2 separate regions of the Homo sapiens genome follow, and region 2 is linked to region 1. Evidence: fine-mapped expression QTL. A gene starts in region 1. The other region holds a variant in brackets. All regions are shown on one strand. Distances are from middle to middle. Region 1 holds the start of ANAPC15 (anaphase promoting complex subunit 15). Region 2 overlaps DEFB131B (defensin beta 131B).

Region 1 (5,253 bases):
CCCCATACCCCTTGCCTACCTCATTGACCTCTCCATCATCCGGTGACTCATTGTAGTCATTCATCTCGTCCATGTCCTGCATATCCTCATCATCCTCTGAGTCCTCTTCACTATCCTCATCATCTTCATCATCCTCTTCTTCCTCGTCATCATAGTGCTGGTGGGCAGGACAGAGCCTGTAAGCCCTACAGGCCTGCATGGACCAGTTCAAGAACTGACCCACTTGAGCCTCTCTCTAGGGCCAATGAATGACCCCCTACCCCGACACTCCCTCCTTGAGTCTAGCAGGCTGGTGCATGTTCTGCAGGACCTTAATGCTAGGCCCAATGCCCACCCCTTCTATCTCCCCTTTTAGGCTTTTACCCAGATCTGAGAACCACAACTGCTCTGGGTCAGAGACAGGACATTCAGAATTAGAGCAGAGCCTCGGTCCACTGCGGCCCCCACACAGGCCCCACCTGCTAGAGCCACTCACCTCTGAGGCTGGCTTGCCAATAGGAACCAGGTTGTTGTCTTTCTCCGCGATGCTTTGGAGCTGTGGGCAAAGGCACAGAGGAACAAGGCCAGAGCCCAAGTAGGGCAGGTCAGGGGCATGGGACTGGCCCATTCTGCCCAGAAGACAACCCACACGTGTTGGGGAGAAGCTTCCTCCCAGTTCTCAGGGAGATACAATCCCTTTCTTGTCATCTGCCATTTATGAACTTGATCCAAATACTTAAACTCTCTGAGCCTTCTTTTTTTTGTATAATTATGGTGAGGATGAAGTGAGAGACTTATCAGCCTAGAAAGCATCATCTGCTAGATCCTCAATTAATAGTCAAAATTATTTCCTGTGCTTTAGGGAAAAGAGCTTGGGCTGAGTGTCAGCAGCCTGGGCTCTAATCTGGCCCAGAAGTCACATGGTACCCCTGTAAAATAGGGTACCACAAGATGAGAACCTTGGCTCCCTGGCTCCCAGCCCGATTATTCCCAGCTCAGGGCAAAAAGCTCTTCCTGGGTAGATTTCTGGAGTAAGGCTGGGTCATGGCCCACTGAAGGAGGTCTCTGTCTGTGCTGAGGTCTCTGTGCTGTGCTAGCTGCTCACTCACCCAGGCCTGATGCTGCTGTTCCTGCTGCTGCAGCTCTGTCTCTTCCACACAGGGTCGATCCAGATTAAACCACAGAGTCTCAGTCACACGAGGGAAGAGTGAGGGGAACAAAGTGGACATGGCTCCTAGACTGAGGGAAAGGGTCAAGTGAATGTGTTTTGCTTTGTTTTTGTTTTTAATTTGGTTGTAATTTGATTTAGGGATAGGGTGGAAGACAGCAGGAAAGCAGCCCCTCCCCCTAGGAATCAGACAGACCTGGCTTTGAGTCCTGGCTCCACCACTTACTAGCTGTTTGACCTTGGCTGAGTCACTTAACCTCTCTGAGCCTCAGTGTCTTCATCTGTAAAATGGGGATAATAACAATTATACCACTGTCAAAGTTATTCTGATAATTAAGTAAATAATGGATCAACAAAGCTGTTTGCAGGCTGTTCAAGGAGGGATGAGAATGGGAGTCAAGTGTAGGGATAGGAATCCAGAATGCAGACTGGCATTATGAAATTATACAAAATTAGAGGTAGCAGGGTTCTACTGAAACTATCCCTACCTCCTCCACACACTAAAACCTGCTTTTTGACCCTTTATGATGGCCCATACCACACCCACCCAGTGTCAGAAATTTAGGACACTAACGACCTCTCATGAATCACAGCCAAATGTCGGGGTGGAGGGATTGTAGCATATGCAAGCAGGGTTCAGTAAGACATTCTAGGAGGCATGAATAAGTGGATAAATAAGTAGATGGAAGATTGAATGGATGAACTAACATTATAAGGGTACAATCAGCTTTGAGCGGCTGAGGGAGCCGACCAGGAGTGCCAGATAATCTGAATTAAACTTAGGACAGGCGAACTGAGGCCCAGCGACAGGCAGAGACTGGCTTTAGGTCATACAGTGTGTCGGGGCTTAGAATTCCTCCGTGAAAGGGATGAGCAGGAGAAAATAATCGATGCCTGGTCCTGCTTTTGTCTTAATTTATCTGACCGACCCAGGGCCAGCCGCTGCCCTTCCCTGTATCTCAGATTCCCAACCCGCGTAATTAGGCACGACGGTAAACACCCTCATGTCCAAGAAGTACTGACAGACCAGCGATCTCGGCTCCGAAAGCCCAACCCACCGTCGCAAAGCCACCGCCCTTTCTTTGCTCATTACGATAATGACCATGCAGTTGACCAACAGAAAGAAAGCAGGGCGGGTCTCAGACAGAAATTTGGCCTTATAGGGTTGCTAAACGCGAAAAAAGCGGGGCCTGGGTAGGACCAATTAACTGAAAGAAATGCTGGGTGACAGGAAGTGACACCAATGAATGACGGACCTTGTGTGACGGGGTGGGGCTTAGTCTCGAGGAAGCGGCCAATGAGCTGGAGCTCTTTAAGGGTTAAGGACTCTCAATATGGAGCTCCTGGGGAGTCGGGTCAAAGGAAATGGGTTTCTCTGGGGGAAAAAGGAATGAAGGGGCAAGGAGACGGTTGCAGCCTTGCGTCTGTACTTACCGCGCCGGGAGGCTGCTGCCGGCGGCGACCCGGAAGCGCTTCACCCAGCCTGAGCGGAAGAACCCACCAGAATCCGGGACTCACCAAACGCATGCGTCCTTCGTCTCCTTTTGTTTTCCCCGCTCCCGCCCACTAAACCGGATGTGACGTTGACCTACCTTAGTCACATTGTTAGGGAAGGAAGTGTGCCGCGCCTACCTATCTGCCCCGCCTTGAGTCTCAGCCAGTCGGCGTCTCCATCCTGGCGCCAGCACTACGGTCTCGTTTAACCACTGCCCCGTTTAACCCCTGCCCTTTTGTTGCCAGTCACCATTTGCTTGTTAACCCCTTCTGAAGAAGAGCTGACAGCAACCTTTTAGTGCGAGGGCCATTCGTCCTGCTGCATCCCAGAAAACTAATCTGTTACTACTTCAGAATTGCTGGTTGATGTTAGGCCCCTCCTATCTGTGCTCTCTCAGCTACAGTTTCCCGTTTGAGCATATTCATTCTTTTTTATTTTTGCTCTGAACAAAAATATTAGAGTTACAATATTACTATATTCCAGGCCTTGCTAGAAACTGGGGATAAATCTAGGAATATGGTCGCTTCCCTGGAAGACCTCACAGTCCAGGGAAGCCAAACCCTGCAGACATGCAGTAGACTTAGTGGTCTCTCTTAAGGTTGCTTGTTGAGTTTTGACATTGGAGATTATGTACAGACTTGAATGACTAGTTAGCCTCAGGCACAGCATTCTGTTGCTGGGGGAATCAGCTGCCCTCCTCAGGCCTGGGCCAAGTACACTTAGAGATCGCCCTCGTCACCTCTCCCATCCTTTGCTGATGCCTCTGTTCTAGTAACCTCTGACTCAGCTTCGCCTTTAGAGATACTCATGCTTTCTGGCAACAGAGGTCCTTCAAACCCAATTCCTATTAAACTCCATCACTTACCAGCCTCTTTCAGGGACAGCAGTTATCCGCATTTCCAGTACTGTCCTGGCCAGATGTGTGAGTTTTGGCAATTCCTTTTCCTCTCTCTGGACTCAGCTTCTTTGTCAACCAGCATCATAATCTCTGCCCAGCCTTCCTTCTATCCTGGGCTGATGTGAAGATTGGATAAGAATTGTTCAAGAGGTCGTGTACTGTGCATATTGAATGTGATTATATTGCCAAATAGCACTGTTTGTTATAGTTTTTCATTAAAGAGTAAACTTTGCCTCTTGGAAATGACTACCTTTTTCATTCATTCAACAAATACCTACTGAGTGCCTTAGTATATGTCCATCACTATTCTTAGTAGTGGGTATACAATAGTAAACAAAACAGACCAAAAAAGTCCCTCTTTTCATGCAGCCTTCATTCTGAGAGAGGTAAACAATAAAGAAGATAGATAAATAAAATATGTAGTTGTAAGATTGCAGTAAATAAGAGAAAAAATAAATCTGAGAAGTGGGAATAAAATATTTGCAGGGGAGGTGTTTTATTTCAGACTGGGGGGCCAAAGTCACTGGGAAGGTGACTTTTGAGTAAAGGTCTGAAGGAGCAGAGAGCCTTCTGATATTTGTGGAAGAGCATTTCAGAGAGAGAGAATACAAGTGCAGAGGGCCTAGAATGGCTTGGGCATAGTGTCCTCTAGGGAGAGTAATAGGTAGGAGATGAGGAGTTGGGGAGCCAGTGGAGGGTTGTGAGCACAGGGTCCACACAATCTGATTTACAGTTTAACTGAGTTACTCTGGCTGTTCTCCAAATAGACTGGGGTAGGGGAGACAATGGCAGAAGCAGGGAGACCATTTGGGAGCCTATTATGATAATCTAGAGGTAGTGGATGAGAAGTGGTTGAATTCTGAATTTATTTAGATGGTAGAGACTACAAGGTTTGCTAACAGATGGACAATGCCAGAATAAGAAAGGAGCCACGATTTTTGGGCTGAACGACTAGAAGATTGGTGTTGCCACTTTTTTGAGTTGGGAAGGAATGGGGAGGTGATGAGGGGTTTGGTTTTTTTTTGACAGGGAGCTTAGGTTTGAGTGTGTTGAGTCTGAGATGCCCATTAGAGTAGAGATGTTGGGGCGGCAGGAAGGCATATGAGTCTGCAGGTCAGGGCAGAGATCTGGGCTGGATAGATCATTTGGGAGTCATTGGCATGTAGATGGTGTTTAAAGTCATGAGACTGGATGAGATCACCAAGGGAGTGAATGTAGTTGGAAAATAGTTTCCTCCAATATTCAGAATTTGAGGAAACTAGGAAAAGCAGCAAACCAGATGGAGAAGGAAGGCCAAAAAGATAAGTAGAAAGCTGGGTGAGTTGATGGTATCTTGGAAGCCATGTAAAGAAAGGGTGGTAGGAGAAAATGGTTTACTGCAGCCTCATTCTGTACAAAATTGTGCTTTTGTTTATTTCCCCAACAGACCATGAGCTCCTTGAGGGCAGGGACTGAATGGTTACTATGTCCCCAGGGCCCAGCATGACCTTCTCCTGGATTCCTCATCTTCCTTCTGTGACCTGTGTCTCCATCAGTTTCTCCTCCGGCATCTTTTTCTTACAGGATTCTTACCTCAGGTACCATTTGCCCCGTCCTTCCTGATAATTCCGCCTGCTGGAAATTCCCTAGTAACAGAGTTTCTTTTCAGGGTCATCAGCCAGGCTCAGTAAGTAATGATGACTGGTTAGCTGGTGACATTTATTGAGTACCAAC
Region 2 (5,501 bases), 230 kb before region 1:
TCTCTACACCACCCCCAAGCTGGATAATTCATTTTAGGTAGAAATATGTGGTAATAGTTCTCATTTAAAATTCTGTACATTTCCAACTACTGCCTCATTTACTACTCTCTTTACAGAAGAAATCATCGTTTGTCTTTATTCAGCATCTCCACTTTTTCTCTTGCATTCTTTTGCTGTTGTTTTTGTTTTTCTGGGAAAGTTCTGTAATGCTTTTAATTTATTATAAAACATTTCAGACATTTAAACATAAAAAGTAAGTAATATTGTGTCATATAATTTGTCTTCTCTTTTTAAAGCCAGAAGCTTCACTTCTAATGATGAATGTCCTTCAGAATATTATCATTGCAGACTGAAGTGCAATGCTGATGAACATGCAATTAGATACTGTGCTGACTTCAGCATCTGCTGCAAACTGAAGATCATTCAAATTGATGGACAAAAGAAGTGGTGAAAATTCTAACTCCATCTTCTTCAGACTCCAGGAGAAAAAACATGTCTTAAACTCTCTTATCTATGAATAATTAACATGATAGATGAAAATTATTATAATTGCATGTTTAGATGGTCAGGTGAAAATGAATATAAATTTTATAAATGCTTACACTCTATTTTCATTTGTGCATTTTAACATTTACTCCCTTAATTTACATCCACAGCCACATTGTTGTTTCACCCATAGTACTATATCCGATGCGGGGAGTAAGAGCCAGCCCCTTTTGCCCCCCTGGCTCTTAGAACCCCTATCGCAGGGGGGTGAGGCACCACCAGCGATGCTGGGAGTAAGAGCCAGCCCTTCTTGCCCCTCTGACTCTTAGGACCCCCATTGCAGGGGGATGAGGAGCCCCCCACGATGCAGGGAGTAAGAGCCAGCCCCTCTTGCCCCCCTGGTTTTTAGGATCCGCGGTGGATACACAGCCTGTTTATCAAATTGTGAGTAATATCATCTCCCGCTCTGGAGATTATGAACTGTTTCACAAACCGGTGTACACCCTGGGTATACAGAGATTGTACACCCGTCTGTATTGGGTGTCATATCATCTTCTTCCTCCCTGAATATTAAGAACAGTATCAAAGGGGTGTTTCTACTCCCTGGGATATCGCGTGTCATATCCTCCTCTCCCAAGTTGCAATTAGAAACAATATCAGTGGGGGTGTGTCCACCTTCTGTGATATTGAAAGTAATATCACATTCTTCCCTCCAGGATCATGGGAACAATATCCTTGGTGGTGTCCACTTTCTGCCATATATATAGTCCTATCAGCCCCTCCGCTTTGGAATGTTATTAAGGACCATCTCACACGGGGGTGTACACTTCCTGCGATGTTGGGAGTAATAGCATTTTCTTCTTCTGTGAATTAGGAGCAAAATCACCGGGTGGATGCACACCCAGTGCTATATTGGGAGTAACATCATACTCCACCCCTTGGAGATTATATTCGGATCAATATCACCGGCTGAGTGTACACCTACTGCGATATTGAACGTAATATCATGCTCTCTCCCACCCTGGACATTAGGAGCAATATCACAGGTGGGTGTACACCCACTGAGGTATTAGGGAGTAATATTAGTGTGAATTATACCTCATTTATTATTAACATGAATATGAATGACCGATATTAATATTAATATTAAGAAATAATTGCTAATAAAGTTTTCAGATTATTAATATTAATATTAATTCTTAGGAGCTAATATTACTGTTTTCTAATGAATAAGATCAATATCAGTTATTAATATCAGGCATCATTAATCATTAATATTAATCATGTATTGTTACCATTAGTATAACTATTTAATATTAATTATCATTATTATCGGTATTGATTTTTAAAAATATTATGGGTTATTAATATTGATAATTATTAGTGTCAATTAATAATTGAGATTATTAATTGCGGTAAGTCGCATTGCGCCATTCCACTCCTCCCTCGGCAGCTCGTTTACGACCCAAAAGGGGACACAAATGCCCCTGAGAGAGCAGCCGTAGACTGGGATAGATGAGGATGGTCACGTGGTGGAGAGGCGTGTTTTTGGGTACCAGCCCTTCACCTGCGTCAATCTTCTCAACTGAAAAAACAATACACCGTCCTATACCGAAAAGCCACAAGCCCTAATTGATTTGCTCCAAACTGTTATCCAGACCCACAACCCCACCTGGGCTGATTGGCACCAGTTGCTCATGTTCCTCTTTAACAGCGAAGAAAGGCGGAGAGTCCTCAAGCAGCAACTAAGTGGCTAGAGGAACATGCACCAGCTGATTATCAAAACCCCCAAGAGTATGGAAGGACCCAGTTGCCAGGAACAGACCCCCAGTTGGACCCACATGAAAGAGAGGATATGCAAAGGCTAAACCGAGACAGGGAAGCTCTCTTGGAAGGATTAATGAGGGGAGCTCAGAAGGCCACAAACGTTAACAAGCTCTCTGAGGACATTCAGGGTAAAGAAGAAAGTCCAACACAATTCTACGAGAGACTGTGGGAGGCCTATCGTATGTATACTCCCTTTGATCCTGATAGCCCTGAAAATCAGCGCATGATTCCCATGGCTTTAGTCCGTCAAAGC[G/C]CAGAAGACATGAGAAGAAAACTGCAGAAACAGGCTGGGCTTGCAGGGATGAATCCATCCCAATTACTAGAAATAGCTAGCCAGGTGTTTGTAAACAGGGATGCAGTAAGCCGTAAGGAAAACGGCAAAGAGAATGGAGGTCAGGCCCGGCGATATGCCGACCTGTTTGTCAGCTGCAGCAATCAGAGGGGCCCCCACAAAGAGGCAAGGGAAGGGAGGCCCTGGGAAAGAAACTCAGCTTGGCTGTCAGAGTTTGCAGCATAACCAGTGTGCTGATTGTAAAGAAATAGGACAGTGGAAGAACAAATGCCCTCAGCTCAAAAGAAAACAAGGTGACTCAGAGCAGGAGGCCCCGGACAAGGAGGAAGGGGCCCTGCTCAACCTGGCAGAAGGGTTCTTGAACTGAGGGAGACAAGACTCAAGCGTCCCCATTGAGCCTCTGGTCACAATGACAGTCGGGGGTGGAGACATTGACTTTCTTGTAGATAGCGGTGCTGAACATTCGCTAGTAACCGCCCCGGTCGCCCGGTTATCCAAAAAGACTATTGACGTCATCGGAGCCACGGGGGTTTCAGCAAAGCAAGCTTTCTGCTTGCCTTGCACTTGTACTGTAGGAGGATATAAAGTCATTCATCAGTTTTGGTACATGCCTGACTGTCCCTTGACCTTTTCGGGAAGGGACTTGCTCAGCAAGCTGAGAGCCACTATCTCTTTGACAGAGCACGGCTCTTTGCTGCTAAAGTTACCAGGAACGGGAGTCATTATGACACTTGTGGTCCCCCGAGAGGAGGAAAGGAGACTTTTCTGAACTGAGCCAGGCCAAGAGAGAAGACCAGCTCTGGCTAAGCGGTGGCCAAGAGTATGGGCAGAAGACAACCCTCCAGGATTGGCCAGTTAAGACTGGGGCCCTGCCAGTGAGGCAAAAACAGGGGCCGGTCCCCAGAGAAGCCCTTCAAGGTATCCAGGTCCATCTCAAGCACCTAAGAACTTTTGGAATTATTGTTCCTTGTCGGTCTCCATGGAACACTCCCCTCCTGTCTGTTCCCAAGTCACGGACCAAGAACTACCAGCCGGTACAGGATTTGCGCTTGCTTCATCAAGCTAAACTGACTTTCCATCCAACAGTACCTAACCCGTCCACATTGTTGGGGTTCCCGCCAGCTGAGGACAGCTGGTTCACCTGCTTGGACCTGAAAGATGCTTTCTTTCCTATCAGATTAGCCCCTGAGAGGCAGAAGCTGTTTGCCTTTCAGTGGGAAGATCCGGAGTCAGGTGTCACTACTCAGTACACTTGGACCGGGCTTCCCCAAGGGGTCAAGAACTCCCCCACCATCTTCGGGGAGGCGTGGGCTCGAGACCTCCAGAAGTTTCCCAGCAGAGACCTAGGCTGCGTGTTGCTCTAGTAGGTTGATGACCTTCTGCTGGGACACCCCACGGCAGTTGGGTGTGCCAAGGGAACAGATGCCCTACACCGGCACCTGGAGGACTGTGGATAGAAGTGTCCAAGAGGAAAGCTCAGATCTGCTGACAGAAGGTATGTTACTTGGGATTGACTATCCGACAGGGGTGGGAAGGCAGCCCGGGATCAGAAAGAAAGCAGGTCATTTGCCATCTAGCGGAGCCTAAGAGCTGAAGGCAGGTGAGAGAATTCTTAGGAGCTGTGGGGTTTTGTAGACTATGGATCCCAAACTTTGCAGTATTAGCCAAGCCTTTGTATGCGGTCACCAAGGGGGCGGGGACCGGGAAACTTTGGAATGCGGATGCCAACAACAGCAAGGCTTTCATGAGTTAAAGGAAAACCTCTGGCAGCCCCAGCCCTGGGGCTACCCGATCTAACAAAGCCTTTTCCATTATATGCATCAGAGAGAGAAAAGATGGCAGCTGGACTTTGAACCCAGACTGTGGGGCCCAGGCCGAGGCTGGGGGCCTACCTCTCTCAACAACTAGACGGGGTTTCTAAAGGATGGCCCCCCTGTTGGAGGGCCTTGGCAGCAACTGCCCTGCTAGTACAAGAAGCAAATAAGCTGACTCTTGGGCAAAAACTGAACATTAAGGCCTCCCGTGCTGTCGTGACTTTAATGAATACTAAAGGACATCATTGGCTAACGAATGCCACACTCACCGACTACCAGACTTTGCTCTGTGAAAATCCCCGTATAACCATTGAAGTTTGTAACACCCTCCACCCCGCCACCTTGCTCCCGGTATCAAAGAGCCCTGTCAAGCCTGGTTGTGTAGAAGTGTTGGACTCAATTGACTCTAGCAGACCTGACCTCTGGGACCAGCCTTGGGCATCAGTAGACTGGGAACTATACTTGGATGGGAGCAGCTTCTTCAACCCCCAAGGAGAGGTGGAGGGTATGCAGGGGTAACCCTGGACACTGTTGTTGAAGCCACATCATTGCCCCAGGCCACTTCAGCCTAGAAAGCTGAACTCATTGCTTTCATTCGGGCCTTAGAACTCAGTGAGGGTGAGACTGTCAACATTTACACTGATTCTAGGTATGTCTTTTCAACCCTTCAAGTTCATGGAGCGTGATAGAAAGAAAAGGGCCTATTGAATTCTAGGGAAGAGACAGAAAATATCAACAAGAAATCTTGCAATGATTAGAAGCAGTATGGAAACCCCACAAGGTGGCAGTTATGCATTGCAGGGGACACCAGCGAGCTTCCACCTGGCTGGGTTTGCGGAATTCCCGCGCTGACTCAGAGGCTCGAAAAGCAGCATCTTCCCCCTTCTGGGCATCAGGGCTCCCTCAAGCACCTGATCTGGGACCTACTTCTTCTAACGAAGAAAAGGACTTTCTCCAGGTAGAGGGAAGGACAAGTGATGGAGGAAGGATGGATTCGGTTAGCAGATGGGAGAGTAGCTGTGCCACAGCTGCTAGGAGCTGCAGTTGTACTGGCTGTGCAAGAAACCACCCATCGAGGTCAG

Evidence for each region. PIP is the estimated chance that this variant, and not a neighbour inherited with it, causes the effect. A credible set is the group of variants that fine-mapping cannot tell apart.
Region 2: its variant is the best candidate, but not a certain one, in a credible set for the expression of ANAPC15 in whole blood (INTERVAL, PIP 0.54).

What each region holds. Positions count from the first base shown.
Region 1 is chr11:72,110,069-72,115,321 of GRCh38, forward strand. It overlaps ANAPC15 (anaphase promoting complex subunit 15), which reads right to left and starts at 2,627. Exons shown (of 6, transcript NM_014042.3): 1 at 2,582-2,627; 2 at 1,344-1,428; 3 at 1,089-1,218; 4 at 476-535; 5 at 20-157. The coding sequence starts at 1,208. It overlaps LRTOMT (leucine rich transmembrane and O-methyltransferase domain containing), which reads left to right. Exons shown (of 9, transcript NM_001145310.4): 9 at 1-714. RefSeq lists enhancers at 1,897-2,434, 2,106-2,275, 2,435-2,972, 2,446-2,505, 2,606-2,665 and 1 more and a silencer at 2,636-2,853.
Region 2 is chr11:71,884,111-71,889,611 of GRCh38, forward strand. DEFB131B (defensin beta 131B) reads left to right here. Exons shown (of 2, transcript NM_001242853.1): 2 at 297-451. The coding sequence ends at 451. XNDC1N (XRCC1 N-terminal domain containing 1, N-terminal like) reads right to left here. Exons shown (of 6, transcript NM_001375847.2): 6 at 1-511. The coding sequence ends at 329. The region is part of intron 6 of XNDC1N-ZNF705EP-ALG1L9P (XNDC1N-ZNF705EP-ALG1L9P readthrough); the gene reads right to left. Among named protein-coding and RNA genes, the nearest start is that of DEFB131B, 8.4 kb to the left of the region's middle. The variant G/C (reference allele first, on the strand shown) is at 2,567.